Regions from separate parts of the Homo sapiens genome. Here region 2 is linked to region 1. A link means that fine-mapping ties the variant in region 1 to the plasma level of a protein whose gene starts in the linked region. Region 1 holds a variant in brackets. A gene starts in the other region. All regions are shown on their reverse strands.

Region 1 (16,240 bases):
AACCAGGCTGGGCTGGGCATGATGGCTCACACCTGTAATTCCAGCACTTTGGGAGGCCAAAGTGATCACTTGAGGTCAGGAGTTCGAGACCAGCCTGGCCAACATGGTGAAACCCTGTCTGTACTAAGAATACAAAAAATTAGATGTGCATGGTGGCGGGGGCCTGTAATCCCAGCTACTTGGGAGGCTGAAGCAGGAGAACTGCTTGAACCTGGGAGGTGGAGGTTGCAGTGAGTCGAGATTGTGCCACTGCACTCCATCCAGGCGACAGTGTGAGACTTCGTCTGAAAAAAATAAAAAACCAGGCTGCTATTTATCTCCGAGGAGCTGGATTGCTTCCTCAAGGGCCAGTATACAGGTGTTTACAGCTGCTCACGTCAATGAGGCTTACCAAGGAGCTAAAACGTTAGCATATAGGTATGGCCAACAGGCATGCCTTGTAGAAATAGGACTTGGAACTGAGAAGTCCAGGCTGTTCTTGCTTCCAGGTTGAGCCCAAGGGCTGGGGACGGGGGGTGTGTGCTGTGTATATGGATTCTAACATTCACTCGGCTTCTTTGGTCACATAGTTTTGTGTTGCAAGCTCTGTCCTCCATCTCTGTATCTTTTTATTTTTGAGATGAAGACTTGCTTCATAGTCCAGGCTGGAGTGCAGCAGTGTGATCTTGGCTCACTGCAACCTCTGCCTCCCAGGTTCAAGCGATTCTCCTGCCTCAGCCTCCCAAGTAGCTGGGATTACAGGTGTGCACAATTACGCCTGGCTAATTTTTTGTATTTTTAGTGGAGACAGGGTTTTGCCATGTTGGCCAGGCTGGTCTCAAACTCCTGGCCTCAAGTGATCTGCCTGTCTTGGCCTCCCAAAGTGCTGGGATTACTGGCATGAGCCACTGCTCCCAGCCCCCCATCTCTGTATCTTGACTGGCATCGTATAAGTTTAGCTCCACCTTGGGAATCCAGAAGCCTGATTAGGAGAACGAGGGAAGCACAGGGTCACAGCAGCCTGGTTAGGCCACCATCAGGAACAAAATCACTTTTTTTTTTTTTTTTTTTTTTTTTGAGATGGAGTCTTGCTCTGTCACCAGGCTGGAGTGCAATGGCGTGATCTTGGCTCACTGCAACCTCTGCCTCCTGGGTTCAAGCAATTCTCCTGCCTCAGCCTACCATGGTGTGTACCACCATGCCCGGCTAATTTTTTTTTTTGCATTTTGGTAGAGATGGGGTTTCAACATGTTGGCCAGGATGGTCTCGATCTTCTGACCTCATGATCCCCCTGCCTCGGCCTCCCAAAGTGCTGGGATTACAGGCATGAGCCACCGTGCCTGGCCCAGGAACCAAATCACTCTTACAGTAACCTATTCCAACAATGAAGCTGTCCGGCTTCTAGGACCACTGAAAATTAAAGGAAATCAGTGAGAACGAAGGAATTGAGTCTTCACAGCAACAGGAAGGGCCTGCCAAAGAGAAGAGAGAAAGGTACAAAAGTTTTTACAGGCAGGAACTGCCTAGCGATGGGGCAACAGTATGATGGGCTCAATGATTCCCAAATGTGTTCCTACCTTGCCATATAATGCCACCATGACCCTTTTAAATTTTTTCCTTTTATTATTATTTGATACACGGTCTTGCTCTGTCATCCAGGCTGGAGTGCAGTGGCACGATCATAGTTCACTGCAGCCTCTGCCTCCCAGGCTCAAGTGATCCTCCCACCTCAGCCTCCCAAGTAGCACCATGCCTGGCTAATTTTTTATTTCTTTGTAGAGACAGGGTCTCACTATGTTGGCCGGGCTGGTCTTGAACTCCTGAGCTCAAGCAATCCTCCTGCCTTGGTGTCCCAAAGTGCTGAGATTGCAGGTGGGAGCCACGGTGCCCGGCTGATGACCCATTTTCAAGCAAGAATTAAGTAGCTTAAAGAACCAAAAGTATCTAATACATGGTGACTTCTTTATAATTGTTCCTGAAATGTCTTCAGCCCAAACTCAGCTATTTAGAAAGGTTAGGTCATTTCCTCAGGATTCTTAATACTATAAAGTTTGAGTCATTAACTGACATAAGATCGGGGAGGGGAGAGAGAGATTGAGAGAGAGAGAGATTTGTAGAGGCAGGGTCTTGCTCTATTGCCCAGGCTGGAGTGCAGTGGTACAATCGTAGCTCACTGCAGCCTAGACCTCCCTGGCTCAAGGGATCCTCCCACCTCAGACTCCCAAGTAGCTGGGACTACAGGAGCATGCTACCATGCCCAGCTAATTTTTTGGTAGAAACAGGGTCTTGCTATGTTGTCCAGGCTGGTCTAGAATTCCTGGCCTCAATGATCCTCCCACCTTGACCTCCCAAAGTGCTGGGATTATAGGCACGAGATACCATGCCCAGCCTTGTTTTAATTTTGATTTCCCTCAGTATGTAGACTTGGGGATGAAGGCTTTAATGGCTTATAGACAGGTTTCATTAATAGTGGAAATGGGCCATGCACAGTTGCTCAGCCTGTATTCTCAGCACTTTGGGAGACTGAGGCAGGTAGATCACTTGAGCCTAGGAATTCAAGAGCAGCCTGGCCAACATGGAGAAACCCCATCTCTACTAAAAATATAAAACATAGCCGAGTGTGGTGACACATGCCTGTAATCCCAGCTACTTGGGAGGCTGAGGCACAAGAATGGCTTGAACCCCAGAGGCAGAGGTTGTAGTGGGCTGAGATCATGCCACTGCCCTCCAGCCTGGGTGACAGAGTGAGACTCCATCTCAAAAAGAAAACAAATATATAAATATATATATAAATATAGTGGAAATGATCAGGGCATCTAGGACATGGGCAGTCCCCTAATCGTCCCCAACACCATCTATCCTAGCCACCACCGAAAAGGCCTGGGTACATTCAGGAAGCAGCCATATTCTTCAGGAAATCATCAGCATCAATGAAGATGTGTTCAGACTTAGGGCAATGGGATGCTTTGCTGGGGTGTTTTTATAGCTGAGAATCCTGACCTGTCAAGGTTGTGCATGGTCTTGCTTTATTTTGGAGGGAAGATCAAATTATTTTCTAGAAGTGGTATAGCAGAAAACAGAAGAGGAGGTAAACAGAGCTGAGATGATTTACTAACTGTGTGATCTGAACTTTTCCAGCCTATTGTATCTGTAAAAATGAAATTGGATGCTTTGAAACATGTTTGACAGACTAAATGTGACATCCCCACTCCTGGTTCTAAATGCTCCAATTTCTTTTCCTCACTAGCTGAGGCGACAGCAGAGGATGGCGGTCAGTCTGGAGCTCCGAAAGGCCAAGAAAGATGAACAGACCTTAAAGAGAAGGAATATCACGAGCTTCTGCCCTGACACACCTTCTGAAAAAACAGCCAAAGGGGTGGCGGTCAGTATGTAGTGTTTAGAGTAGTCTTGGGCAAAATATGTTCTTAGCAAGTGTCTCTGGCTGGATAATATTTAATAGATTCAGAACTTGCAAACTCTCGTTTTGGGCTTTTAAAGAAAGGAGTGAAGAGATTATGGTTTGAGCTAAACTGCCTTTGTCAAAAGGCTAATGGCCATTACTCCTATGGCTCTGAGTCTGTGGAATCTAGATTCTAGTGGGGGATGGAGAGGATTTTTATTATACTTTTTATTTTTATTTTTTGAGACAGGTCTCACTCTGTCACCCAGGATAGAGTGCTGTGGCACAATCAGAGCTCATTGCAGCCCTAATCTCCCTGGGTTCAAGCGAACCTCCTGCCTCAGCTTCCAGAGTATGTGGGACTACAGGCACTCACCATCATGCCTGGTGAATTTTTTATTTTTTTATAGAGACAGGATTTTGCCATGTTTACCAGGAGGGTCTCGAACCCCTGGACTCAGGTGACCTGCCTGTCTCAGACTCCCAAAGTGCTGGGATTACAGGTGTGAGCCCCTGTACCTGGCCAAAAAGGTGATATTTCTAATTGAAAATTTACTTGCTATCCCTAAGCCTGAAAACCGAGGAAATGAGGGTTGGTGAAGGTTATTTCTCAGTAGAGGCATCTAGTCCCTGGATGGGTGAGGTCTTTCCTAACACTTTGACTTCTGTCCTGTCTTCCCTTCTCCATCTACCCCAACCTTATTAAATGCAGATCCTGGGTTGACTTCAAGGTTAGTCCGGTTTCTGTGAATACCGAATGCCTTGACCAGGAAGTTTTCCTTCTTAGCACCTCAATAATGGTGTCTCTATATTCTTTTGGGGTACACCACTGTCTGTCCTACCTTAACTACCCACATGCACCCTTTTTACCCTGCTTGGTTTAGGTCTCATAGAGGGCAGAGACTGGTTCCATTTTTGTCAAATTGGGTCCAATGATGTGTTCCCATTCATCAATGAAATGTGTACAGTCATTCTGAGTTGCCATAGGAGTCCAAACTATATCTCTAGTTAGCTTCATTTGTTTGGAGCAGTCCCTAGAATCCCCCCATCCAAGGATGGTATAAAACAAAAGGGAAAAAAGGCCAAGCACAGTGGTTCACACCTGTAGTCCTAGCACTTTGGGAGGCCGAGGTGGGTGGATCACCTGAGGTCAGGAGTTCGAGACCAGCCTGGCCAACATGGTGAAACCCCATCTCTACTAAGAATACAAAAATTAGCCGGGTGTGGTAGTGGGTGCCTGTAATCCCAGCTACTCAGGAGGCTGAGCAGGAGAGTTGCTTGAACCTGGGAGGCAGAGGTGGCACTAAGTCAAGATCGTGCCACTGCACTTCAACCCATGGGTGACAGAGTGAGACTCCATCTCACTCCAACAAACAACCCCAAAAAGTTGTTTTTCTTTTGGTCCCATATTAGCTTTTTTTTTTTGAGACAGAGTCTCACTCTGTCGCCCAGGCTGGAGTGCAGTGGCACGATCTTGGCTCACCGCAACTTCCGCCTCCTGGGTTCAAGCAATTCTTCTGCCTCAGCCTCCCGAGTAGCTAGGACTACAGGTGCCCACCACCACACCCAACTAATTTTTTGTATTTTTAGTAGAGACGGTTTTTTACCATGTTAGCCCGAATGGTCTCAACCTCCTGACCTTGTGATCTGTCTGCCTCAGCCTCCCGAAGTGCTGGGTTTACAGGCATGAGCCACTGTGCTTGGCATATTAGCATATTTTTTAAAGAAATGAAGGTATAATTCACATCAAAATTCACTCTTTAAGTGCCTAATCAGTGGTTTCTAGCATAGTCACAAAGTTGTGCAACCATTGCCACTAGCTAATTCCAGAACCTATTCATCACCTCAAATAGAAACTCCAGTCATTCAGGAGTCACTCCCCATTCCTCATCCCCCACCGTCTCTGCAAACACTAGTCTACTTTCTGCCTCTCTGGAATGACCTGTTCTAGACATTCCCTAGAAATGCAATCATATAAACATGTGAGCTTTTGTGTTGAGCTTTTATGTTTTCAAAGTTCATCCATGTTGTAGCATATATCAATACTTCATTCCTTTTGGGCAGAATGATAATCTGTTATATGGAGAGACCACATTTTGTTTATCCATTTATTTGTTTATAAGATGGAGTCTCACTCTGTCACCCAGGCTGGAATGCAATGGCACAATCTCGGCTCACTGCAACTTTTGTCTCCCGGGATCAAGCCATTCTCCTGCCTCAGCCTCCCGAGTAGCTAGGATTACAGGCATGCATCACCTGCTAATTTTATATTTTAGTAGAGATGGGGTTTCACCATGTTGTTCAGGCTGGTCTCGAACTCCTGACCTCAAGCAATTTGCCTGCCTTGGCCTCCTAAAGTGCTGGGATTACAGGTGTGAGCCACCGTGTCTGGCCTTGTTTATTTATTAATTGGGGGACTTTGGGTTGTTTCCACTTTTTGGTTGTTATGATGAATGCTGTTATTAACATCTGTGTACAAGTTTTTGTGTGGAAGGGTGTCTTCAGTTCCACTGAGAATAACTGGGTTATGAACTAAGCCTGTTTCACTCTTTGTGGTAGGCTGTATCGTGGCACCCCAAGTGTCTGCATCTTCTAGTCCCCAAACCTGTGAATATTACTCTATGAGGAAAGGGATGTAGCATATGTGATTAAATTAAGGATTTTGAGATAGAGAGGTGATACTGGATTATCTGGGTGGGCCTGGCATTCGATGATTCTTATAAGAAGAGCAATGTGATGACAAAAGCAGATGCCGGGCATGGTGGCTCATGCCTGTAATCCCAACACATTGGGAGGCTGAGGCAGGAGGATCACTTGAGCTGAGGAGTTCGAGACCAGCCTGGCCAACATGGTGAAACCGCGTCTCTACGAAAAATACGAAAATTAGCCAGGCCTGATGGCTCATGCCTATAATCCCAGCATATTAGGAGGCTGAGGCGGATGGATCACTTGAGGTCAGGAGTTCAAGACCATCCTGGCCAACATGGTGAAACCCTGTCTCTACTAAAAACATAAAAATTAGCTGGGTGTGGTGGCATGCACCTGTAGTCCCAGCTATTAGGAAGGCTGAAGCAGGAGAATAGCTTGAGCAGTGAGCTGAGATTGTGCCACTGCACTCCAGCCTGAGTAAGAGAGCGAGACTGTGTCCCCCCACCAAAAAAAAAATTCCAGCCCTTTGTCCATTTTTAAGTCAAATAAATTATTTTTTATTGAGTTGTAAGAATTCTTTATATATTCTAGATATTAAACCTTAGCAGATATGACTTGCAAATATATTCTGTTCTGTGGGTTGTCTTTTCACTTTCTTGATAGTATCCTTGGAAGCATAAAATTTTTTAATTTTGAAGAAGTCTAGTTTATTTTCTTGGTTGTTTGTGTTTTAGGTATCATATCTAAAAATTCATTGCCTAATCTAAGGTCACAAAGATTTGTGCCTATATTTCTTTCTAAGAGTTCATAATTTTAGCTCTTACTTTTAGGCCTTTGAGCCGTTTGGAGTTAATTTTTGTAAATGGTGAGAATGGGAGTCCAACTTTGTGCTTTTGCATGTGATACATAGTTGTACCAGCACAGTTATTTGAGACTATTTTCTACCCATTGAATTGTCTTGGTACCTTTGTCAAAAAAATCAATTGACCGTGAATGTGAGGGTTCATTTGTGGACTCTCAGTTCTCTTCCATTGATCTATACGTTTATCTTTGTCATCAAACAAAGGTTTGATTACTGTAGCTTTGTGGTAAGTTTCGAAATTGGGAAGTGAGTCTTCCAGCTTTGTTCTTTTTTTCAATATAATTTTGGCTATTCTGGACCCTTTGTATTTCCATATGAATTTTAAAATCAGATTGTCAATTTCTACAATAAGGGCAGCTCCGATTTTCATGGAGATTGCATTGAACCTATAGAATGGAGTCATTGAATTTATAAGGTTGGAGTATTGCCATCTTAACAATGTTAAGTCTTCCAGTCCATGAACATGGGATACCTTTTCATTTCAGTCCTTTTTTTTTTTTTTTTTTTTTTTCAGTTTGCAGCATATAACTCTTGGATTTCTTTCAATAAATTTATTACTAAGCATTTTATTCTTTTTATGTTGTAAATTAAATTGCTTTATTTTGATTTTTGATCACTGCTAGCATGTAAAGATACAATTAATTTTTGTATATCAATTCTGCAACCTAGCTGAATTTTATTAGCTCTAGGCTTTTGGTGTAAATTCCTTAGGATTTTCTACATATAAGATTAAGTCACTTGCAAATAGTTTTATTTCTTCCTTTCCAATCTGGGTGCACTTTATTTGTTGCCTAATTAATGCATCTAGAACTTCCAATGCCATGTTGGATAAAAGTGAAAAGAGCAATATCCTTGTCTTATTCCTGATCTTGGGGGAAATCTTTTAGACTTTCACCATTAAGTATGAGGCTACCTCTGAGTTTTTTGTAGATGCCTTTATCAGAATGAAGAAGTTTCCTTTTATTCCAGTTTGTTGAGTGTTTTTTTTTATTATGGAAGTATGTTGAATTTCATTAAATGTTTTTTCTGCATTGAGATGATCATGTGGGTTCCCCCCCCTTTATTAATACGGGGTACTATGTTGATTTTTTTTCACATGTTAAACCACTCCTGAATTCCTGAGTTAAATCCTAATTCATCATGATGACCAATATGTTGACCATATGTTTCATACGTTTAGGCATTTGGTTTCCTCCTATTTTGTTGAATTTTTGCATCAGTAGTTATAAGGGATATTAGCTTATACTTTTCTTGTAATATCCTTGGTTTGGTATCAGAGTAATACTAGCCTCTAAGAATGAGTGAGAATTTTTTTTTGTAAAGTTGGTAAAGTTTTTTTGTTGTTGTTTTTTTTGAGATGGAGTTTTACTCTTATCACCCAGGCTGGAGTGCAATGCTGCAATCTTGGCTCACTGCACCTCAGCTTTTTGGCCTTGATGCTTTCTGATAAGAAATCAGCTGTTAATCTTATTGAGGCTTTGTACATGAATTGCTTCTCTTTTGCTGGTTTCAATGTTTTTGATTCTGTAGTTTTGGCTTTCAACAGTTAGATTATAATATGTCTGGATCTTGGGATTTATTCCGTTTGGAGCTCATTGAACTTTTCAGATGTGTAGACTAATTATTCTATTGGATTTGGGAATTTCTTTGGCCATTATCTCTTTAAATATACTTTCTGCCTCTTTCCCTCTTCTCCTTCCTATTCTGCATTTGTTGGTATCCTTGATGATGTCCCACAGATCTCTAAAGATCTGTCAATTTTCATCTTCAGTCTCTCTTGTGTGTGTTATCTTCCTCAGACTGGATAATTCCAATTAACCTATCTTCAGCTTCACTGCTGCTTTATTATGTCTGCTTAAATCTGCTGTTAAGCCCCTTTAGTGAATTTTTGTTTCAGTTATTGTATTCTCCAATTCCAGAATTTGTATCTGGCTCCTTCCAATAACTGATATCTGTTCACTGATATTCTCTATTTAGTGTGACAGCATTGTTGCACTTTAGTTCTTTAGTCATGGTTTAGTTCTTTGACTATATTTAAAATCTTTGTCTAGTTCAACATCTGGTCTCCTCAGGGACTATTGCTATTGATTGCTTTTTTCACATATATATGTATATGTGTGTGTCACACTTTCTTTGCTTGTCTCACAATCTTTGTTGAAAACTAGTCATTTAAAATAGTGTGACAACTCTAGAAATCAGATTTTCCATTGCCCCAGGGTTTGCTGTTGTTGCTGGGTGTGCTCGTTTAGTAGTTTGAGCTAATTATCTAAAATCTGTATTTTTTTGTGATGTGTGGCTGCTGCAGTGTCTGCTTGGTTTGCTCAGTGGTCAACTAATAATTAGAGACTTATTTTAACACTTCGAACCACGAAGAAAAGAACACTCAATTTTTGCCAAGAAGCTCTGTGTTGGGGGCATGCGTTCACCACTCAGCCAGGCAGTTGACAATTCTGACGTAAGCCTTCACTTCCTGTTTGCACAGAGCTTCAAAGTCAGTGAGAGGGAAGAGCTGAGGGTCTTAGTTTTGTTGTTGTTGTTGTTGTTGTTGTTGTTGTTTTTAAGCATATGCATAGCCCTATACATGACATTCCCTTTCAAGTTTTTTTGTTAGCCTGTTGTTTATCCCAACTCTTATTCAACCTCTCAGGTAGCTGTGAAGTTAAACAACTTCCTCTGTTTTCAATGAACATTCTTAGGGAAAAGCCTTTTCATACTGACTAAGCTCTGAGTCAAAATAGTCTGTAAGTGGGATCTTTCAGGGAATGACCAGACAGATCAAATAATAATTTTCTGGGAATGAGGCTCCAAAGGAGGACCTACCTATTTTGCCTCTTCTGGTGGTTGGGAGGCTGTTGGTTTTTCACAATGATTGTGGACTGTTGGTTTTCAGGGTTACCATGGAGCTGAGGGTGGGTGGGAATAGGGCAAGTCAAAATGCCACAAAGCTCTCATGCTACTTACTGAGATTCAGCTGTCTTTCTTGGATAAACACTTCCTGGCTTGAATAAAACAATTGGCCGCAAGCCTTTGGTCAATTTCTACAGTGCTGAAAAAGTTGATTCTATTTTTGTCAGTTTTCTCTTTGCCTATGTGGAGGAGAGAATTTTTTGGATGTCCTTAGTCTGCCATTTTGTTTTGTATCCACTAGCACATTCTTACTGCACGGGATAAAAATGTTCTTGGGATCCAACTAATGATAGGAATTACTTCTCCCCTAAGCATGGGAAGGAACACACAGATCTGTGAGATCTGTGGACTATATTCTCCCCTCCCCAAATATAGAACAGCATGCAAGATGGGACATCCTGTTCAAGCCAGGCTGTTTTAATCAGATGGATGATGGCTAGAGTAGGTGATGTTTACAGCTCATTTTGGCAGACAGTCTGACCTGAATGTGTCTCTTCTTGCAGGTCAGCCTCACTCTGGGTGAAATAATCAAAGGTGTGAATAGCTCAGATCCAGTCCTATGTTTCCAGGCCACCCAGACAGCCAGGTATCTCCAAACAGACTTCTGCTGTTGCAGGTTCATAGTTAGCAATGAGCGTCAGTGATGGCTGGAGCGCCGGTGGCCTATTTGGTTTCTTGGCATTGGCAACATGCCCGTAAAACACAGGAAAAGGCTAGCCCATCTAAAAGACGAAATTGCTATTCTACACTGTCCTTGAGGGCAATTTAAAAGCTTCGATGTGTTGTCAGAGATGAATTGCTTAATTTACATTGGCCTCTACAGAAATTTCATCTTGTAGATAACACCTTAAAGGGGAAAATGTTGATTTAATACCGAAAAATGCTATCGGTTGAACACTAGGATCTTAAGTAGCTCCGGCCCAGCTATGTGGCTTATGTATAAAAGGAGGTTCTTTTTTTCTCTTTTGAGATGGAGTCTCACTCTGTCACCCAGGCTGGAGTGCAATGGTATGATCTTAGCTCACTGCAACCTCCGCCTACTGGGTTCAAGTGATTCTCCTGCCTCAAGCCTCCAGAGAAGCTGAGATTACAGGTGTGCACCACCACACCCAGCTAATTTTTATATTCTTAGTAGAGATGGGACGGGGTTTCACCATGTTGGCCAGGCTGGTCTCGAACTCCTGACCTTGCGACCTCAAGTGATCTGCCCGCCTTGGTCTCCCAAAGTGCTGAGATTACAGGTGTGAGCCACCGCACCTGGCCTAAAAGGAGGTCCTTAATACCTCTCTCACTTGACCTCCCCCTCC[C/T]CTGCCCTCTCTTTCATTGCATAGGAAAATGCTATCCCAGGAAAAGAACCCCCCTCTGAAACTGGTCATTGAAGCGGGCCTCATTCCCAGGATGGTGGAGTTCCTGAAGTCATCACTTTACCCCTGCTTGCAGTTTGAGGCTGCCTGGGCCCTGACCAACATCGCTTCAGGGACTTCGGAGCAGACTCGTGCCGTGGTAGAAGGGGGAGCCATCCAGCCCTTGATTGAGCTCCTGTCTTCCTCCAACGTGGCTGTGTGTGAACAGGCAGTGTGGGCTCTTGGTAATATAGCCGGTGAGACTCTCCCCTTAGTGGGCTAAGAAAACGGGGCCAGGTGTGTGGGATACTATAAGGTTTCTTTGGGTGGTGGGGTATACTCGATGTCCCAGAACACTTTGCCATGTAAATACCTAGAAGTGCTGGCAAGGGTACAATGAGCTGTTTCCAAACTCAAAGCCAGGCCAGGCACGGTGGCTCACGTCTGTAATCCCAGCATGTTGGGAGGCCAAGGCGGACGGATCACTTGAGGTCAGGAGTTCAAGACCAGCCTGGCCAACATGGTGAAACCCCGTCTCTACTAAATATACAAAAATTAGCCAGGCATGGTGGTGCATGCCCTGTAGTCCCAGCTACTCGGGAGGCTGAGGCAGGAGAATCGCTTGAACCTGGGAGGAGGAAGTTGCAGTGAACCAAGATAACGCCACTGTACTCCAGTGTGGGCAACAGAGGGAGATTCTGTCTCAAAACACCAAAAGCCCTCAAATCCAAGTTTAGAGGCCAAATATTGAAGCTGAAACAGGATGATACAGTGTATACTGAAGCCACAGGCTAACTAGAGACATCTGCCAACACTAAGGTCCTACAGCCTCAGGGCTTCGTGGCTTCAAGAACAAGTCTTTGGCTTATGCAGTGTGGGAGTTTATGATAGACCCTTACATAACTCGGGACCCCAGAAGGACTCTGCCTTCAGTGGAAGTTGCTAAGGGAACGTGCCAAAAACAAAAACAAAACAACAACAACAAAAAAAAACTCCTTGGTTTGGGCTAACAAGCCTTCCCTGAAAGTGGAATCCTCAGACTACCTTTCTGAATGTGGCAATCGATGCTCTTTCCTGCATGGTCTAGTGAATTAGTGCTGTAGGGTCGGAAGCCCCCAGATTCTTGGCTGACATCAATCCAGTGACTTTCTAGGGAAAACTCAATTAGGTCCCTCAGGATTTTGACAAATTAAGATCAGCCGACTATTAGCATTTTCAAGTTCAGAGAAGCAATAACTCCCGTGACTGAGTCAGCAGAAACAGTATGATTAGACCTCCAAGGACTCCACATATTGGAATTAGCAAACAGAATATAAAATAACTGCTAAAAGAAAACAAAAGCTTGCAGAGGCTTGGCGTAGTGACTCATGCCTTTAATCTCAGCACTTTAGGAGGCAGAGGTGGGAGGATGGCTTGAGCCCAGGAGTTTGAGACCAGCCTGGGCAATGTAGTGAGAACTTATCTCTACAAAAAATAAAAATATTCACCAGGCATAGTGGTGTATGCCTATAGTCCCAGCTACTCAGGAGGCTACGGTGGGACAATTGCTTGAGTTCTGGAGGTCGAGGCTGCAGTGAGCTATGATTGCACCACTGCACTCCAGCCAGGGCAATAGAGTGAGATCCTGTATCCCCCTCCCCCGCCAAAAAAAAAAAATAAAAGGCTGCAGGAGGAAAAAGTGCCTATTAGAGAAGTTGTCTCTCATTTTGCTTGGTGCAGTAAAGTAGGCAAGACTGGATGGTACAATGTGATGACTTGCCTTTGATGGTTGACAAATACAAATAGACTTCTAGGGTCTAAAATTGTTATCCTAGCTAAGGTAGCTGATGGCTGGTCACCAGCACCTGCAGATCCCCAGACTTTGTTCTGAGTTGCATTGGAAGTTACTGCCCTGTGCCAAGGTCTTCTGGGAAGACAACTTGGTCTGGACCAGCCTTCGTCTTCCTGAGAACCATGCTGTGAGATGCCAACAGCCCACCTTGGCTGAGTTGGCTGGCTCTGCTTCTAGCAGTTGCTGCTGTGTGATGCCTGCCTGTTACATCAGGACTGTCCACCCACCAGCCATGCCAGACTTCCAGAATTTAGTACGTGGCTCTACTACCTACTTGCTAAACCCGGGAATGAGTTTTTGTCTCTTGCCCTTTGCACACTCTTAAAAAATTAGTCACCCACTTCAGGATTGTCTTTGTTCTCTCTCTAAATGTCACATTCTGCTCTATTTGTAGGTGATGGCCCAGAGTTCAGAGATAACGTCATCACAAGCAATGCCATCCCACATCTCCTAGCCTTGATTTCACCCACCCTGCCGGTAAGTGTCTTTTTCTTTCTCTTTTTTTTTTTTTAAATTAAAATTTTAAAATAATCTTAATAGAGATGGAGCCTCACCATTCTGCCCAGGCTGGTCTTGAACTCCTGGCTTCAAGCAATCCTCCTACCTCTCAAAGTTCTGGGATTATGGACGTGAGCCACAGTACCAGGCCAAGTGGATGTCTTTAAATGAGAGAGAACCTCGTTAGGTAACAAATTCTAATGTTGGGAAATTGGGACATACTTCCAAATCCAATGCTAGATCATGTGGCTGCTGCCTGGCCTCTTAGAACCTCATAAACAAGGCTCAAGACTGGGCATGGTGGCTCATGTCTGTGATTCCAGTGCTTGCTAGGCCAAGACAGAAGGATCACTTGACACCAAGAGTTCAAAACCAGCCTGGGCAACATAGTGAGACCATGCTTCTAAAAATAAAAAAATTAGCTGAGCATGGTAGCGTACACCTGTAGTCTCAGCTACTCAGGAGGCTGAGGTGGAAGGATTGCTTGAGCCCAGGAGAGGGAGGCTGCAGAGAGCCAAGATCACACCACTGCACTCCAGCCTGGGTGACAGGTTGAGACTCTGTCTCTAAATAAACTAATAATAGCAAGGCTTAGGACTGAGTATCATTTTAGGTAAAGATTGACTCAGCTCTGTCTTTAGGGGCCAGTAGCACTGATCCTTCTCTTTGCGGCATTGGAAGAGGCCTACAAGCTTGCCATCTTGCAAAATAGATGACTGAAATCTCCATTCTAGGGTCACAGTTTAGCATATATGCCTGGTGTTCCATTATTGGAACACTAAGCCTGTGGGAGTTATTTATATCCTACTGCTCATGGTCATTACCAAGGTCTGATTTTTCACACAAAAAAATTTGCAACCTCTGGCATAAATGGGTTAATGTCTCACCAGTTCTGTTCATGGGGAACAGGCTCTTCTTTTGAGGCTTAGAGTCAAGGTTGGTTGATTTGTGGTTATTGATTGAAGAGGACTTCTGGTTTAGGAACTGGGTTCTCGATTTGCCTCAAACAAAAATGAAGAGCAGCCAGAGGACTATGTTCAAAACCTTCATCTGGGAACCGTGGCTCACACCTGTAATCCCAACAATTTGGGAAGCTGAGGCGGGTGGATCACCTGAGGTCAGGAGTTTGAGACCAGCCTGACTAATATGGCGAAATCCTATCTCTACTAAAAATACAGAAACTAGCCAGGCATGGTGGCACGTTCCTGTAGTCCCAGCTACTTGGGAGGCTGAGGCAGGAGAATTGATTGAACCTGGGAGGCGAAGGTTGCAGTGAGCCAAGGTTGCGCCACTGTGCCCCAGCCTGGGCAACAGAGCAAGACTCTGTCTCAAAACTCTTCAAGATGGGAGAAAAATCTGACATGGTTGAACCAATAAAAGACTAGCCATGACCGAGAGAGTTTAAGTAGAGAACACTTAAGATGGCAAGCAGGAAAAGGGCTTAGACATCTTCCTGCTAGCAGCAGGGAGGCTTTGGAGGATTTTGAGGCAAGGGAGTAGAGTGGTCTGATCTTTCAGAAAGGCCCTTCTGGTTGCCTGCCGTAGAATTATATAGCAGAGAGAGGCCGGATGCGGTAGCACTTTGGGAGGCCGAGGTGGGCAGATCACGAGGTCAAGAGATCAAGACCATCCTGGCCAACACGGTGAAACCCCGTCTCCTAAAATTACAAAAATTAGCTGGGTGTGGTGGCACGCACCTGTACTCCCAGCTACTCAGGAGGCTGAGGCAGGAGAATCTCTTGAACCTGGGAGGTGGAGGTTGCAGTGAGCCGAGATTGTGCCACTGTACTCCAGCCTGGTGACAGAGCAAGACTCCATCTCAAAAAAAAAAAAAAAATTGTATAGCAGAGGGAGATGGTGAAGCAGGTGGGTCTGGGACATAGCCATTCTAGACGTGAAAGGGAGACAGCAAGAAGCCAGGATGCCCCTAGGTTTCAGGTTAGATTGTTCAGATGATTGTCTTCCTAGAGAAAGGGGAAAAGTGCAGGAAAAAAAGAAATTGGAGCTTGTGTTGCAGGCATGAAGTTGAGGCGAGTTGGAGACACCATTGCAGCAGAGTCGGATTGACAGATGTACCTTGCTAGGTGACATATGTGTATATGTCACCCAGCCAGGCAAGGTCAGCTGGGGCCAGGGGTCACAAACATGACCTGGCTGGCCGCTTGCTTTGTAAATAGTTTTATCAAGCTGGGCATGGTGGCACGTGTCTGTAGTCCCAGCTACTTGGGAAGGCAAGGCGAGAGGATCGCTTGAGTTTGAGGCTGCAGTGAGCTGTGATTGCACCACTGCACTCCAGCCTGGGTGATGGAGTGAGACCCTGTCTCCCCCCAAAAAAAAAAAAAAAGTTTTACTGGCATGCAGCCACACTCATTTACATACTGTCTGGTCTACAAGGACAGTTGTTGTTGCCACAGAAGCCACAGGCTAAAAATGTTTAAGATCTGGCCCTTTACCGAAAAAGTTTTCAACCCCTGACCTAGAGTGTGAGGAGAGCCTGAGACCCAGTCCTGTGGGCTCTAAGGTTCTAAATTCAGGCAGAGCCTGCCAAAAAGACTAAGTAGAAACAGCTAATTTGGCCATAGAAAACCAGGTTTGGTGTCACAGTTGCCAAGAAGAGCTCTTTCTTTTTTTTCTGCTTTTTTTTCTGCTTTTTTTTTTTTTTGAGACAGAGTCTTGCTCTGTCACCAGGCTGGAGTGCAGTGGTGCAATCTCAGCTCACTGCAACCTCCGCCTCCTGGGTTCAAGCGATTCTTCTGCTTCAGCCTCCCGAG
Region 2 (14,530 bases), not on the chromosome of region 1:
ATTTGAACTATGCTATTGCATTCATGCACTTTCTGTAAGTGATTTTTATGATTAGTATGCTATTTTTATATTCATGGTTATTATAATTTAAAATATTTTTATATGCTATAACAATGTCAACTCATCTTTTATTAAGTGGTTGTGTTTGTGTTAATGCTGAAAAACAGCTGAAAACAAGCTAGATGTGGTATGCCAATTCAGGAAAGGACACTGATAATAATAATAGCAGTTAATACATTTTGAGTGCTACATATTTTTCTAAATGATTAATATGCATTACCTCTTTTAATACCTAGTTTATAACAGCCCTATGAAAAAGGGGTCTGAGACCAGCCTGGCCAACATGGTAAAACCCCATCTCTACTAAAAATACAAAAATTGGCTGGGCGTGGTAACACATGCCTGTAATCCCAGCTACTTGGGAGGCTGAGGCAAGAAAATCGCTTGAACCCAGGAGGCGGAGGTTGCAGTAAGCCGAGATCATGCCACTGCACTCCAGCCTGGGTGGCACAGAGAGACTCCATCTCAAAAAAAAAAAAAAGTACTATTATTATCCCCAGTCTATAGATGAGAAAATAGCCTCAAAAAGTTGAGGTAACTTGTTCATAAATAACTGAATGTGGGCTGGGCACAGTGGCTCACGCCTGTAATCCCAGCACTTTGGGAGGCCAAGGCGGCAGGATCACCTGAGGTTAGGAGTTCAAGACCAGCTTGGCCAACATGGCTAAACACCATCTCTACTAAAACTATAAAAATTAGCCAGGCATGGAGGCACGCACCTGTAATCCCAGCTACTTGGGAGGCTGAGGCAGGCGAATCACTTGAATCCAGGAGGCAGAGGCTGTGGTGAGTCGAGATCACACCACTGCACTCCAGCCTGGGCTACAGAGCAAGAATCCATCTCAAAGATAAATAAATAAATAAATAAATAAATAAATAAATAAATAATCAAGGGTGGATTTGAACACAGGCTGACTCTAGAGCCTTCCCTATTAACAACTATGCTCTACTGTGTTTCTAATGCTGAGAAAATGAAAAGCAACATTAAAAAATAATAACAGATAAGGATTTATGAGCTCCAAGAACACATTCCTTTTACTTTACCCATATTCCTGAGGGAAAATTAGTCTTTCTTTACATATGTTAAATGAATTAATGGAAAAGAAGGAAAGAATATTCCAGCTACTTGGAAATTAATTAAAATACAGTAGCCCCCTCACCTTATCCTTGGGGGATATGTTCCAAGACCCCCAATGAGTGCCTGAAACTGCAGATAGTACTGAGCCCTGTATATATTGTATTTTTTCCTGTACATATATACCTATAAAAAAGTTTGATTTATAAATTAGCCACAGTAAGAGCATCAACATTAATATATAGAATAATTACAACAATATTCTGTAATAAAAGTTAAGTGACTGTGTAGTCTCTCTCTCTTCAAATATCTTATTGTACTATACTCACTCTTCTAGTGATGCTGTGAAATGATAAAATGTCTATGTGATGGGATGAAGTGATGGAGCAAGATGATGTGAGATTTCATCATGCTACTCAGAAAAGTGCACAATTTAAAACTTATGAATTATTTCTAGAATTTCTCATTTAATGGGGGACTACTGTAAAGACTTTCAAAGGTTTTAAAGACTAGTCATGGTTGTTAAAGAATTTAAATGCAGGATTATATCTAAATAAATATATAATTTCAAGATAAAATGCAAATGATAATTCTCAAAAAAAGAAGTTGAATAAGATAAAATAATAATCTAAAAGTAATAAACTGGCTATAAATTCCCCGATTATACCAACTTTTATTGGTAAAACTAGGAAATAGGAGAAAATTCTTGAAAGAAAGTTACAGTGATTTTCTCATGTTACAAAGACAGGAGCTAAAAAAATATTATTGATGGTTGATGTAAATAATTAGAAAAATTCAGGTAAAAATCTTTTTAAAGAATTTTAAGAATTAATATCAAAATGTAAAACAATGTATTCCTTTCAAATTACTTAAGGAAGGCCAAGCACCGTGGCTCATCCCAGTAATCCTAGCACTTTGGGAGACCAAGGCAGGAGGATTGCTTGAGGCCTGGAGTTCATGGCTGCAGTGAGCTATGATTGTGCCACTCGACTCCAGAATGGTGACAGAGTGAGACCCATCTCATTAAAAAAAACAAAAATGGCTTCAAAAAGTTAAATAAAATATATTTAAAGTTAGAAAGAAATCAAAGAAAACATAAAGAATCAGCAAGGAAGCATTTTAAAAATTACAGATTACCAGTTATACAGTAAATATATTTTATTAAGCTTACCCATTAGAAAGCTCCTTTGATATGATTTTCTTAAACATCTACAAGTGACACACTTAAAACAAAGATTTAGGAAGCTTAAGAGGAAAAGATAAAGACAAAAAAATAGGAATTACATCAAAGTAGAATCTCAGAGGTAAAACTATCACATGAGCAAAGAGGATCACTTTTTTTTATGATCCCTAATACAACTCATACAACTTCATGTACTAAGTAACAGTGCTAAAATATATATAAAGTAGCTTTCCACCATGGCCACCATTGGAGGGCAGCAGCCATGACACTGCACTACCCTATAGCTGTGGGCCTCAACAAGGGCCACAAGGTGACCAAGAATGTGAGCAAGCCCAGGCACAGCCACTGTGGGCGCCTGACCAAACTCACTAAATTTGTGTGGGACATGATCCCAGAGGTGTGTGGCTTCACCCCTAACGAGTGGCGTGGCATGGAGTTACTGAAGGTCTCCAAGGTCAAACAGGCCCTCAAATTCATCAAGAAAAGGGTAGGGACAAACATCTGCACCAAGAGAAGGCAGGAGGAGCTGAGCAACGTCCTGGCTGCCATGAGGAAAGCAGCTGCCAAGAAGGACTGAGCCCCCTGCCATCTGCCTATAATGAAAGCTTTGCAGAATAAAATAAATATAAAATAAAGTAATAAAATTAAATTAAATTTAAAAATAAAATAAAGCAAAACAAAATAAAATATATAAAGTAAAAATTGTTGAAAATGCAAAACAATATGGACATAAATACAGAAACACAGGGAAACTTCTTTAGGCACTCATTTACAGGTAAAAATATGAAATTGAATAAAGGTCATCTGGTGTCAAATAATATAGGCCTTATCTATTATAAGAGTTTGGACTGAAAAGCAAAAGTGAGATAATAAAAAAAAGCTTTTCAGAATATTATTTTGTATAGATATGTGAAGGATGAAGGGTGGGTGAAAGGACCAAAAACAGAAACACAGTCTTCCTGAATGAATGACAATCAGAATTCCGCTGCCCAAAGTAGTCCGACAATTAAATGGATTTCTAGGAAAAGCTACCTTAAGAAGGCTGGTTACCATCTGGGTTTTCACAGTGCTTTCACATTCTTATCACTTTCAACACTACTGCAAATAGGAAGGGACAGTAACATTTAGAAGAGAACAAAACAGAAACTCTTGGAAGCAGGAAAGGTGCATGACTCAAAGAGGGAAATTCCTGTGCCATAAAAGGATTGCTGGTGTATAAAATGCTCTATATATGCCAATTATCAATTTCCTTTCATGTTCAGCATTTCTACTCCTTCCAAGAAGAGCAGCAAAGCTGAAGTAGCAGCAGCAGCACCAGCAGCAACAGCAAAAAACAAACATGAGTGTGAAGGGCATGGCTATAGCCTTGGCTGTGATATTGTGTGCTACAGTTGTTCAAGGTATGCAGTAATTTTTATTTCTCAACCTATAAGTTCCTTTTCTAATGTTTCAAATGTCTTTTCTTCCACTTTTATCCTAAAAGACATGATAAAGTTTTATTTAATCTCACAGATTAGAAGTTACTACAGCTTTAGCACAGAAATGGTGGACATGTTTAAGATACTAGAGATGATTATTGAAACTAGAAATTATGAACTTCATGGAATTTTTGATTTGGCTAGAATATCTGGCAAAAGCCTTTAGCAACAGTTTTAAATGTCTGTTAAGAAGATTTTATATAGCGATCATGTTAACAAGCTTCCTGGGAAAATATTTGAGGATAAAATCAAGGGGGCAAAACAAGCTTCACCTCCAATAAACTTCCTTCATGCTTCCCATTTGTTAGCGATTTGCTTACTAATTTAATGAGAAAATAATCAACATCTTACTTAACTTTTCCCAGTAACAGTTGTGTTAAGTGCTATTTGACAAATTACTATCTTTACCCTTAATGAAAATTCTGCTCACGTTCACCACCAGCTATAAACCACAGCCATCTGTTGCAATCAGATGCATTACTAACTAATGCTATGATCTATTCTAGGCTTCCCCATGTTCAAAAGAGGACGCTGTCTTTGCATAGGCCCTGGGGTAAAAGCAGTGAAAGTGGCAGATATTGAGAAAGCCTCCATAATGTACCCAAGTAACAACTGTGACAAAATAGAAGTGATGTAAGTAATGAACTTGCTGAAGATGACAATGGTGCAGGCTTTTTTGTTTATGTATTTGCATCTAAACTTTAAGACTCTTGTATGTTCTTTTAACAGTATTACCCTGAAAGAAAATAAAGGACAACGATGCCTAAATCCCAAATCGAAGCAAGCAAGGCTTATAATCAAAGTAAGTTACCAAATTACTCCCATGTTATAATCTGTTTTATCCAAGACAGATCTTTTGAAAAAGAAAATAATGTGGACAACTACAGAAAGATTCTGCTATGATCCTGTGTGAAATATTCTGTTAAGGGGTCCTTGGTTGTAACAGCTTCCCCTTCTTACTACATGTTTTTAGATGTCCTGGGGGAAACAAGAACAGCCCAAGTAAATAAAACTCTTGTTTTCTTATTCCAGAAAGTTGAAAGAAAGAATTTTTAAAAATATCAAAACATATGAAGTCCTGGAAAAGAGCATCTGAAAAACCTAGAACAAGTTTAACTGTGACTACTGAAATGACAAGAATTCTACAGTAGGAAACTGAGACTTTTCTATGGTTTTGTGACTTTCAACTTTTGTACAGTTATGTGAAGGATGAAAGGTGGGTGAAAGGACCAAAAACAGAAATACAGTCTTCCTGAATGAATGACAATCAGAATTCCACTGCCCAAAGGAGTCCAACAATTAAATGGATTTCTAGGAAAAGCTACCTTAAGAAAGGCTGGTTACCATCGGAGTTTACAAAGTGCTTTCACGTTCTTACTTGTTGCATTATACATTCATGCATTTCTAGGCTAGAGAACCTTCTAGATTTGATGCTTACAACTATTCTGTTGTGACTATGAGAACATTTCTGTCTCTAGAAGTCATCTGTCTGTATTGATCTTTATGCTATATTACTATCTGTGGTTACGGTGGAGACATTGACATTATTACTGGAGTCAAGCCCTTATAAGTCAAAAGCATCTATGTGTCGTAAAACATTCCTCAAACATTTTTTCATGCAAATACACACTTCTTTCCCCAAACATCATGTAGCACATCAATATGTAGGGAGACATTCTTATGCATCATTTGGTTTGTTTTATAACCAATTCATTAAATGTAATTCATAAAATGTACTATGAAAAAAATTATACGCTATGGGATACTGGCAAAAGTGCACATATTTCATAACCAAATTAGTAGCACCAGTCTTAATTTGATGTTTTTCAACTTTTATTCATTGAGATGTTTTGAAGCAATTAGGATATGTGTGTTTACTGTACTTTTTGTTTTGATCCGTTTGTATAAATGATAGCAATATCTTGGACACATCTGAAATACAAAATGTTTTTGTCTACCAAAGAAAAATGTTGAAAAATAAGCAAATGTATACCTAGCAATCACTTTTACTTTTTGTAATTCTGTCTCTTAGAAAAATACATAATCTAATCAATTTCTTTGTTCATGCCTATATACTGTAAAATTTAGGTATACTCAAGACTAGTTTAAAGAATCAAAGTCATTTTTTTCTCTAATAAACTACCACAACCTTTCTTTTTTAAAAAAAGATCTATATACTTTCCAGGACATTTGAGATGCCTTTAACAATTTTGCCTTATATTTCAGAAACATACACCTATCCGTCATCATGAAAAACTGTTTAGAAATATATTTTAATGGGTAGGTGGGAAAGACAGTTGTTTCTTTTGTCGGCCTTGGGGGGTCTTGATAGTCCAAACCCCCTTCTTACTTGGAGAAAATCCCTTATGTGAGTGTTGGTGGGAGGCCAAAAGAGAGAAGCCAAAGACAGGAGATCCTCTCCTGTAGCCACAACAAGGACTCAGCCATGCTGTTTCTACCCTAGACTTTGAACTCCAGCTGGCATCACAAAGATACTATTAGTAAGAAAATTATTTCAAGCCTGGCAGCAGCAGGAGAAACAATGAAAGTCTTACAGTAGTGTCTTCCCAATGTGTGTTCCTGTAGCATGACTCTGGCTAGTCCTTCCTATCACCTAGTTCCCTTAGGTCTTTGTCCATTTTCCAAGACTTATTCTCCATTGTCCTGTGGATTCTTCAACCTCCAACTAAATTCTTTTTCTCCTTAAGATAGCCAGAGTTGGTTTCTCTGCATGTAACCAAAAGCCTTGACTGATAGCAGTACTCTCTATATAGGCACCCATACATTTGAAAAATAAAAATATTTATTATAGGATTATAATCAGATATATCTATATTGCATTATTATATAGGTTATAGATACAATATAGATTTATAATAAATTGTTATATAAATCTATATAAATATCTATATAGAGATGGGACTTCCATATAAATTCCCTGGATAGTTTTAAGACCTGAATCTGGCTGGGTGCGATGGCTCACATCTGTAATCCCAGCACTTTGGGAGGCCGAAGCGGGCGGATCACCTGAGGTCAGGAGTTCAAGACCAGCATGGCTAACATGGTGAAACCCCATTTCTACTTAAAATGCAAAAAATTAGCCGAGGCTGCTGGCACGTGCCTGTAATCCCAGCTACTCAGGAAGCTGAGGCAGGAGAATCGCTTGAACCCGGGAGGCAGAGGTTGCAGTGAGCTGAGATCATGCCATTGCATTCCAGCTTGGGCAACAAGAGTGAAACTGCACCTCAAAAAAAAAAAAAAAAAAAAGACTTGAATCTAATCTTTGACTACTTACAGTGATTTTTTTTTTAAGTCTCTTTAAAAATAAAAATTCACATAGTCAGCTGGGCATGGTGGCTCACACCTATAATCTGAGCACTTTGGGAGACCAACATAGGTGAATGGCTTAAGCCCAGGAGTTCAAGACTAGCTTGGGCAACATAGCGAAAATTCATCTCTATAAAAAATAGGAAAATTAGCTGGGTATGGTGGCACATGCCTGTAACCTCAGCTACTTGGGAAGCTGAGGTGGATGGATCACTTGGGTCTGGGAGGTTGAGGCTGCAGTCAGCTGTGATCACACCACTGCACTCCAGCCTGGGCAAAAGCCTGCCTCAAAAAAAAAAAAAATTCACAGAGTTAAGGCTGCATGATAAATTGGTATTTGTAAGAAGTATATTAAATATTATAGGCCAGTACATTATTACTGAGAAGAAAACATACACCTAAAGTTCTTCATAGCAAAATAAATATATGAAATATTAATAATTAACATATTTGAGCCAAGATCCTCCCCACCTTGGTACCTTTGCACATACTATTCTCTCTGCCCATTTCTTCACTAAGCTAATGCCTACTAATTGCTTAGGTCTCAGCTTAAATGACTTTTTCTCCAAGAAGCCTTTGAAACCACCACTTCAGCTTTAACTAGATTAGGTGTCCTATTTATTTATTTCCATAACACTCTCTATTTTTCCATCATACTACTTACTGCAATTGTAATTAATGAATTATTCCTGTGCCTAATATCTGCTCTCTCATAAGTGTAAAAGAAAGCTGCTGTAGCCCAGGCCAACAGTACAGTTTCTGGTGCATATCAGACCCTATTGAATGGCAATATAAACTAAGGGAAAAGGAATTTACAGCAGAGGAATGACACAAGGGAATGTACAGTAGTAGGAAGTATAAAGTGATTTTTAGGAATCATAATTAGATTCGTTTGGTTGGAAGGATGAAGGACATGAAACTGTAAATAACCTTGAATTTTACTCTGTACAAAATGGGGATTCAATAAATGTTTGTGAAGAAGAGAGTGACCCTATCAAAGTCATTGGAAAATATTCTGGGAATTGCATGAATGGTTGATTGAAAGTGGGAAAGAGTGGAGGAGGAAAATCAGTTGGGATTTGCTGCAATAGCTGCAATATCTCAGGTCTGTATTTCCAAAACTTCAAGGCATTCTCATATCATCTTTACAATTTTTTTTTAACATTTCTCTGTTTGATCTTCATTATATTTTTAGAAACTCTGTATACCACTTTATTTTACGTACATTTACATGAAAAGTAAACTTTCACTACTGTACATGTAAAATCGGTAATACATGCCATGGAAATAAAATGTAATGATAAAACAAAATACAATGAAAAAATACTAATATTCCCCCTGATTTAATTAATCAGAGGGATTGAAGTTAAGAAGAGAATAATTCACTGATACTAAACGTTATTATCAATGTACATGGTAGTGTCCCACACTTTGGGAAACACTGGTGTGAAAAGTAATGGGGCTGGCTCTGCAATAAGTTAAACATAATTATAGTAATTATATATTACTATATAATCCAGCAATTCCATTCCTAGGTATATACCCAAAAGAACTGAAACAGCTCTTTAAACAAAAACTGGTACACAAATGTTCATAGCAGCATTATACACAACAGCCAGAAAGCAGAAACAACCCAAATATCCATCAACAAGTGAATGGATAAAATGTGGTATACACACACAATAGATTATTCGGCCATAAAAAGGAATGAAGTACTGATACATGCTACAACATGGATGAACCTTGAAAATATGCTAAGTAAAAAAAGCCAGACACAAGGGACCACATATTGTATGATTCCATTTTATAGGAAATATCTAGAGTAGGCAAAACCATAAAAACAAAAAGCAAATTAGCTGACTGGGGTTTGGGGGAGGTGTTAATGAGGAGTAACTACTTAATGAGTATGGAGTTTCTGGGTGATGAAAATGTTCTGGAACTAAATTATGGTGATGGCTTCACAGCACTGTGAAAGTACTTAACTCCACTGAATTGTACTCTTTTAAATGGTTAAAATGGTAAATTTTATGTTATTTGTATTTTACTATCATAAAAAGAAGAAGGGCTACACTAAGGTGGTATTGGTAAGAGTAGAAATATAATGACAAGTACACTGTACAAAAATAATCAAGACAGTGATAGATTGGATGTGAAAGTTGAAGCTGAGGCCAGACACGGTGGCTCACGCCTGTAATCCCAGCACTTTGGGAGGCCGAGGCGGGTGGATCACGAGGTCAGCAGTTCAAGACCAGCCTGGCCAACATGGTGAAACCCCGTCTCTACCAAAGATACAAAAAATTAGCTGGGCATGGTGGTGCATGCCTGTAATCCCAGCTACTCAGGAGGCTGAGGCAGGAGAATCGCTTGAACCCGGGAGGTGGAGGTTGCAGTGAGCCGAGATCGCGTCATTGCACTCCAGCCTGGGCTACATAGAGCGAGACTCCATCTCAGAAAAAGAAAGTTGAAGATGCAAAAAAGAAACAAAGAACATGTTAAGGATTTGAGTCTGAATTTAAAGCAGAGAAGAGACAAGGAAAAAAGGCTGAACTTCTGAGGTCTGAAAGAATAGTTCTGTCACTAACAGAAATAGGGATATGAGGGGGAAGATGTAGTTTAGCAGAAAAAACTGCAGATTCGATTTTAAATACATGGAACTTAAGATGCCAAACACTCACAGTGACTTAAAATTTCAGGACTGTTTCCTCTAATTAGCCAAGAAGAGCTTTCAAACAAATGGAGTAGTTTTGGATAATGCTATTAGAAAAGGAAAGATTATACTTAATTATTTTTGGCTACTGAGTACAGGACCTAATATGCCCACATGGAATTAATATACCTCTTTGTATCTATTTCTGAAAAGATTTTCATAGCCAACAATTATAAATCTTTATGATATGGTCAGCACATTCTGTGGATTATAAGTAGTACACACACAAAAAAAACTGTTAGGGTTTTTTTTGGAGAAGGGGTGAATGAGGCAATTTTAGTTGCTTCTTCTTGCCTTGTCTGCAAATTTTATTAACCAGACACTGGTAATGAAATTGAGCAAGTCTGAGATTATCACATAACACTGAAACCATAGTTTCACTTAAGTACCTAAGAAGAATACGTCCTAAAAATCCTGGCACCATAAGTACAGATGTATTCATAGTTCCTTAGTGCTGCTCAATAAACTGCTACTAAATTGGAAATGCCCTAACGTGAATTATAGACTCTATATAATAAATCCTGACTTAGCATTCTTCTTCAAATTGTTCACAAAGACAAACTGTCAATAAGAAGTTGAAGAAAACTGAATGATAATCTAAAATATGGAATAACAGGCACTACTGAACTATATCATATCTCAAGATTCCTCTTCTCAAAAGAAAAGACAACCAATGATGAATCAATTAAAATTAAAACTAGACATTTTCTAAAGATTTTGATTAAAAATGGAACAAAGTATCACAAAATTCTAATTTATTTTGTTGAAATATCTTATTTATGGGAAGGAGAAAGAAATGCACCATACTTCCCCCAAACACATTTACTTTATTATAATGTCCTCCAATTTTGTCTCTTCCTCCAAATGATGAAATCTGCCATATTTGTAAAAGTCCTCTCAAGTGCGCGAGTTCAGAAACACTGCATAGCCTAAAATGTATCCAAACAGAAGCTATTCTGAGCCTCTGCCTCCTCCAATGCCATGATGATTGTTAGGGTCTACCACCCACTTTGCCAGCACTCAGTTTGCCCTCTGCTTAGGCTGGCTATGAAGGATGAGACACATGGGTAATTGAAAAGTATGTAACCAGTATTACCAAACACTGTGAGCTCGGGGAATCTTTTGAGAGCTCAGAGTGAAAACTGTGAAGGGGAAGCTTTGCCCTGCTCTCCCATACTTTCCAAGGCATATTCTGCACCAGCTGAGGGGATTCCCAGTCCACAGAAATCACTGATGTCCTCCTGCTCACTTTTTAGAAAATTTCTTCTAAGCATAACAGTTTCCGGGAAAGCATTTTTGCCTTCGTCTGTGCTCATTAGTTTGTCAGGGCAGACTGTTCCTTTTTTCATTGTTGTCTTTTTTGGCCTGATGCCATAATCACAGGCTTAAAGATAAATCAATAGCGACTGAAACGGAAACTAAAGCGGGATACTTCCTTAACTTTCATTTTCTTTCAAAATTATACTCAGATCAGTGAATTCTAGGAACGTGATTATACCATAAACGTTGCAAAAATTGAGAGAAATATATAAAAAGAGTTATCATTTAGATTTTTATTCAAATGACACATGCAGTCTTGGCTTTGGGTGAAATAAGTAATAGTGGGCTTGCTACTGTCTCTAAAAGTTTGATTTTTTTTTTCTAAATGATTTTCCATGTTGATCACATTTGTCAGGTTTCTACCCTGAGCAGAACCCTCATTTAAAACAAGAAGAGAAGGGTCCTTCGTTTGACTCTGCTCACCAGGTACTGTTCTGATACTAATTCAATTTCCTAGGCAATCTGATCTTGGGAAAGGGGTGACTTGGATACCAAAACCAATCATCCTAGTCACTGAAAAGGTTCTCATTGTAAATGGATACACTGTCTTTTAATTTTCATCTTAGTCTATCTGAGATTTGGTTAGCAGAGTTAACTCTCTGAGAATATGCTTACCCTGGATGATTAGGAAAAAATGAGAATTTCTGGACTGGAAAAACTGAGGACCAGATTTTATAGAATCCTAACACGGCATTATCACCCCTATGAGTCTACCAATCTTCCTGACTGGTTGGTTGGCTTCCCCCTTTACCATTTTTTGATGACATTTATCTGTCATCAAATGTAATGGATTGTAATGGATACACTGTCTTTTAATTTTCATCTTAGTCTATCTGAGATTTGGTTAGCAGAGTTAACTCTCTGAGAATATGCTTACCCTGGATGATTAGGAAAAAATGAGAATTTCTGGACTGGAAAAACTGAGGACCAGATTTTATAGAATCCTAACACGGCATTATCACCCCTATGAGTCTACCAATTTTTCTGACTGGTTGGTTGGCTTCCCCCTTTACCATTTTTTGATGACATTTATCTGTAATTGCACAAGCTTTCCTCTCCTGGCCACTTACTTAAGTAACATTCACACTTTATGGCTCATCTGAGGTCTTTTTTTCTGAAGGATCTTCTGAAAACTTCTGACCTTAATGAGTACAGTCTCCTATGAACCTCCACATTATTTATTTTCTATACCACTCATTTGGTACTGATCATAAAGTTTCTTTTTTTCTTTTCTTTTTTTTGAAACGGAGTTTCGCTCTTGTTGCCCAGGCTAGAGTGCAATGGCGTGATCTCGGCTCACTGCAACCTCCGTCTCCAGGGTTCAAGTGATTCTCCTGCCTCAGCCTCCTGTGTAGCTGGGATTACAGTCGCCCACCACCACGCCCAGCCAATTTTTTGTATTTTTAGTAGAGACAGGGTTTCACGATGTTGGCCAGGCTGTTCTAGAACTCCTGACCTAAGGTGATCCACCCGCCTGGGCCTCCCAAAGTGCTGGGATTACAGGCATGAGCCACCTTGCCCGGCCCATAAAGTTTCTCTTATTGATATTTATTGTTTCATAGTTTCTGGTCTTCCCAATTAGAATGTAAACCCATCAAGGATAAATATTGGATCTCAACCCTTCTAGTATTCCCTGAGATTAGCTTAGTTCCCTACACAAAGTGCACAGAAAATAATGAGAACAAGCCTACTTCTCCTCCTTCTTCTAACACCATCCATGGCCATATACATGATATGCACTGAGGATATTTGCATTCCTGCATTCATTCATTCAATGCTTAATTACAGATAAAAAAACAGCAAATAACTAAGAAGCTTTTAGGGGTACCACTCTATATTTACCAGAGTTCCGGAATGAAGAGTCTGTCCTATAGCTAGCTGAGAATATCTGTATTGATTTTACCTACTTAAATCTAAACTAACTTCTGGGGAAATTATAGTCTTCTTAAATTAAACTTGGTTCTTAAAGCTAAGGAAAACAATAATACTCATGTCCAGATTCAGAAATCTGATGAACAAATGGAAATACTTCTTGAAATACAATCCTGGTATGCTGTCACTTAAAGTCTGTAAAGATTCATTCAACCATCCTTCTATCCAATATTTACCAAATGCCTCTCATATGCATTTTAGTTCCCTGTTCTCCTGGGGCATACATTTTAGCATGGAGAAACAGACATTACACTAATTAAAAAAAATGAATGAACTGAATATCAGATAGTATGAAATGCCATGTAGAGAATTAAAGTCATGTCTGCTTCAGATTGTGTGACAAGAGAAGGTACAAGCCAGCTAAAATTTAAATGTCCAGAAGGAACTCTCTATGTGACGAACAGGAGGAAAAGCATACCAGATGGAGAAAATTGCCAGTGTATGGGCCACTGACTGGATTGTAGTGGTTGAGAAGGAATGATATGAGGTTGGACAAATAGGTAGCAGCCAGATCATAGAGGATTTAGTAAAGCAGCTTAATTAGAAATTTGGATTTTATTCTAACTGGAAGTTGTTTGAGGTCTTAAGCAGAAGAGTGACGTGATCACTTACGTTTTTTAAATAAAAAAAGTAAGTGATCATGTTCCACTGCTACATATGTACCCCACAAAATGAAAGCATATGCCCAGAAAAAAAATTATAAAAAAATCTTCGTAGCAGCTTTATATATAATAACTAAAATCTGAACACAGTCAAGGTGTCCATCAACAAGAAACAAACTGATATGTTTGTGCAATGGATTACTACCCATCAATAAAGAGAAACAAATTACTAATTCATGCAACTACATCGATGAATCTAAGAAACATTATACTGAGCAAAAGATGTCTTGCACAAAAGAGTATATACTCAAGTGGTTCCATTTATATGAAGTTCTAGAACAGGCAAAAATAATCTATGGTGAAAAAAATAGAAGAGTGGCTGGGTCAGAGGTAGATGTTATTATAAGAATAAAATGAGTCAATATGGTCAATAGTCACAAAGCAGTTCAAACAATGCCTGGCACACAGTTAATGTAATACAATGTTTAGTAAAAATCAAATATTTTATCCCTAATAACAGATTTTTAGTCCATTTATCAAGTATCTCCTTTTTACATTGTCTTCTATATAGAGACATTTTAGCTGACAACTTAGATACCAACTAAAATAAAACTGTCACCATCTCTCATTTTGATTGTTTAATGTTGAACTTTTCTAGGCCTCTTCCATTCATGATGTCAGACATTTCTCTGAAATTTGTTGGCATTCTATTCACAGTAAAATGTTTGTTCTGCACAAATAGGTATGGAAGGATCCCTCCATTGTCACTATTTCTCATAAGACTTTCCCTCATCAGAACGAACGCCTCTTTGCTAGGTGAAAGTCTTTTGGGTTCTGTCAGTCTCT

Which allele goes with the higher level. Positions count from the first base shown, and alleles are read on the strand shown. Strength reflects both the effect of a copy and how common the allele is.
As copies of C replace T in region 1, the plasma level of the protein whose gene starts at base 3,575 in region 2 goes down (weak association).

The links. PIP is the chance, under the fine-mapping model, that this variant and not a neighbour inherited with it causes the effect. Protein levels are from antibody-based Olink assays in UK Biobank. Linkage for the fine-mapping came from a reference panel and not from the study's own genotypes, which makes the PIPs less certain.
Region 2: it holds the start of CXCL11, and the variant in region 1 is fine-mapped to the plasma level of the CXCL11 protein (UK Biobank, PIP 0.99).

The regions. Positions count from the first base shown.
Region 1 is chr7:99,190,227-99,206,466 of GRCh38, reverse strand. KPNA7 (karyopherin subunit alpha 7) reads left to right here. Exons shown (of 11, transcript NM_001145715.3): 3 at 3,227-3,361; 4 at 10,301-10,383; 5 at 11,129-11,397; 6 at 13,366-13,448. Among named protein-coding and RNA genes, the nearest start is that of KPNA7, 9.8 kb to the left of the region's middle. RefSeq lists a silencer at 15,467-15,761. The variant C/T (reference allele first, on the strand shown) is at 11,105.
Region 2 is chr4:76,025,115-76,039,644 of GRCh38, reverse strand. CXCL11 (C-X-C motif chemokine ligand 11) reads left to right here and starts at 3,575. Exons shown (of 4, transcript NM_005409.5): 1 at 3,575-3,718; 2 at 4,303-4,429; 3 at 4,526-4,598; 4 at 4,829-5,963. The coding sequence starts at 3,658. The coding sequence ends at 4,852. It also overlaps a transcript of ART3 not described here and the pseudogene RPL36P8.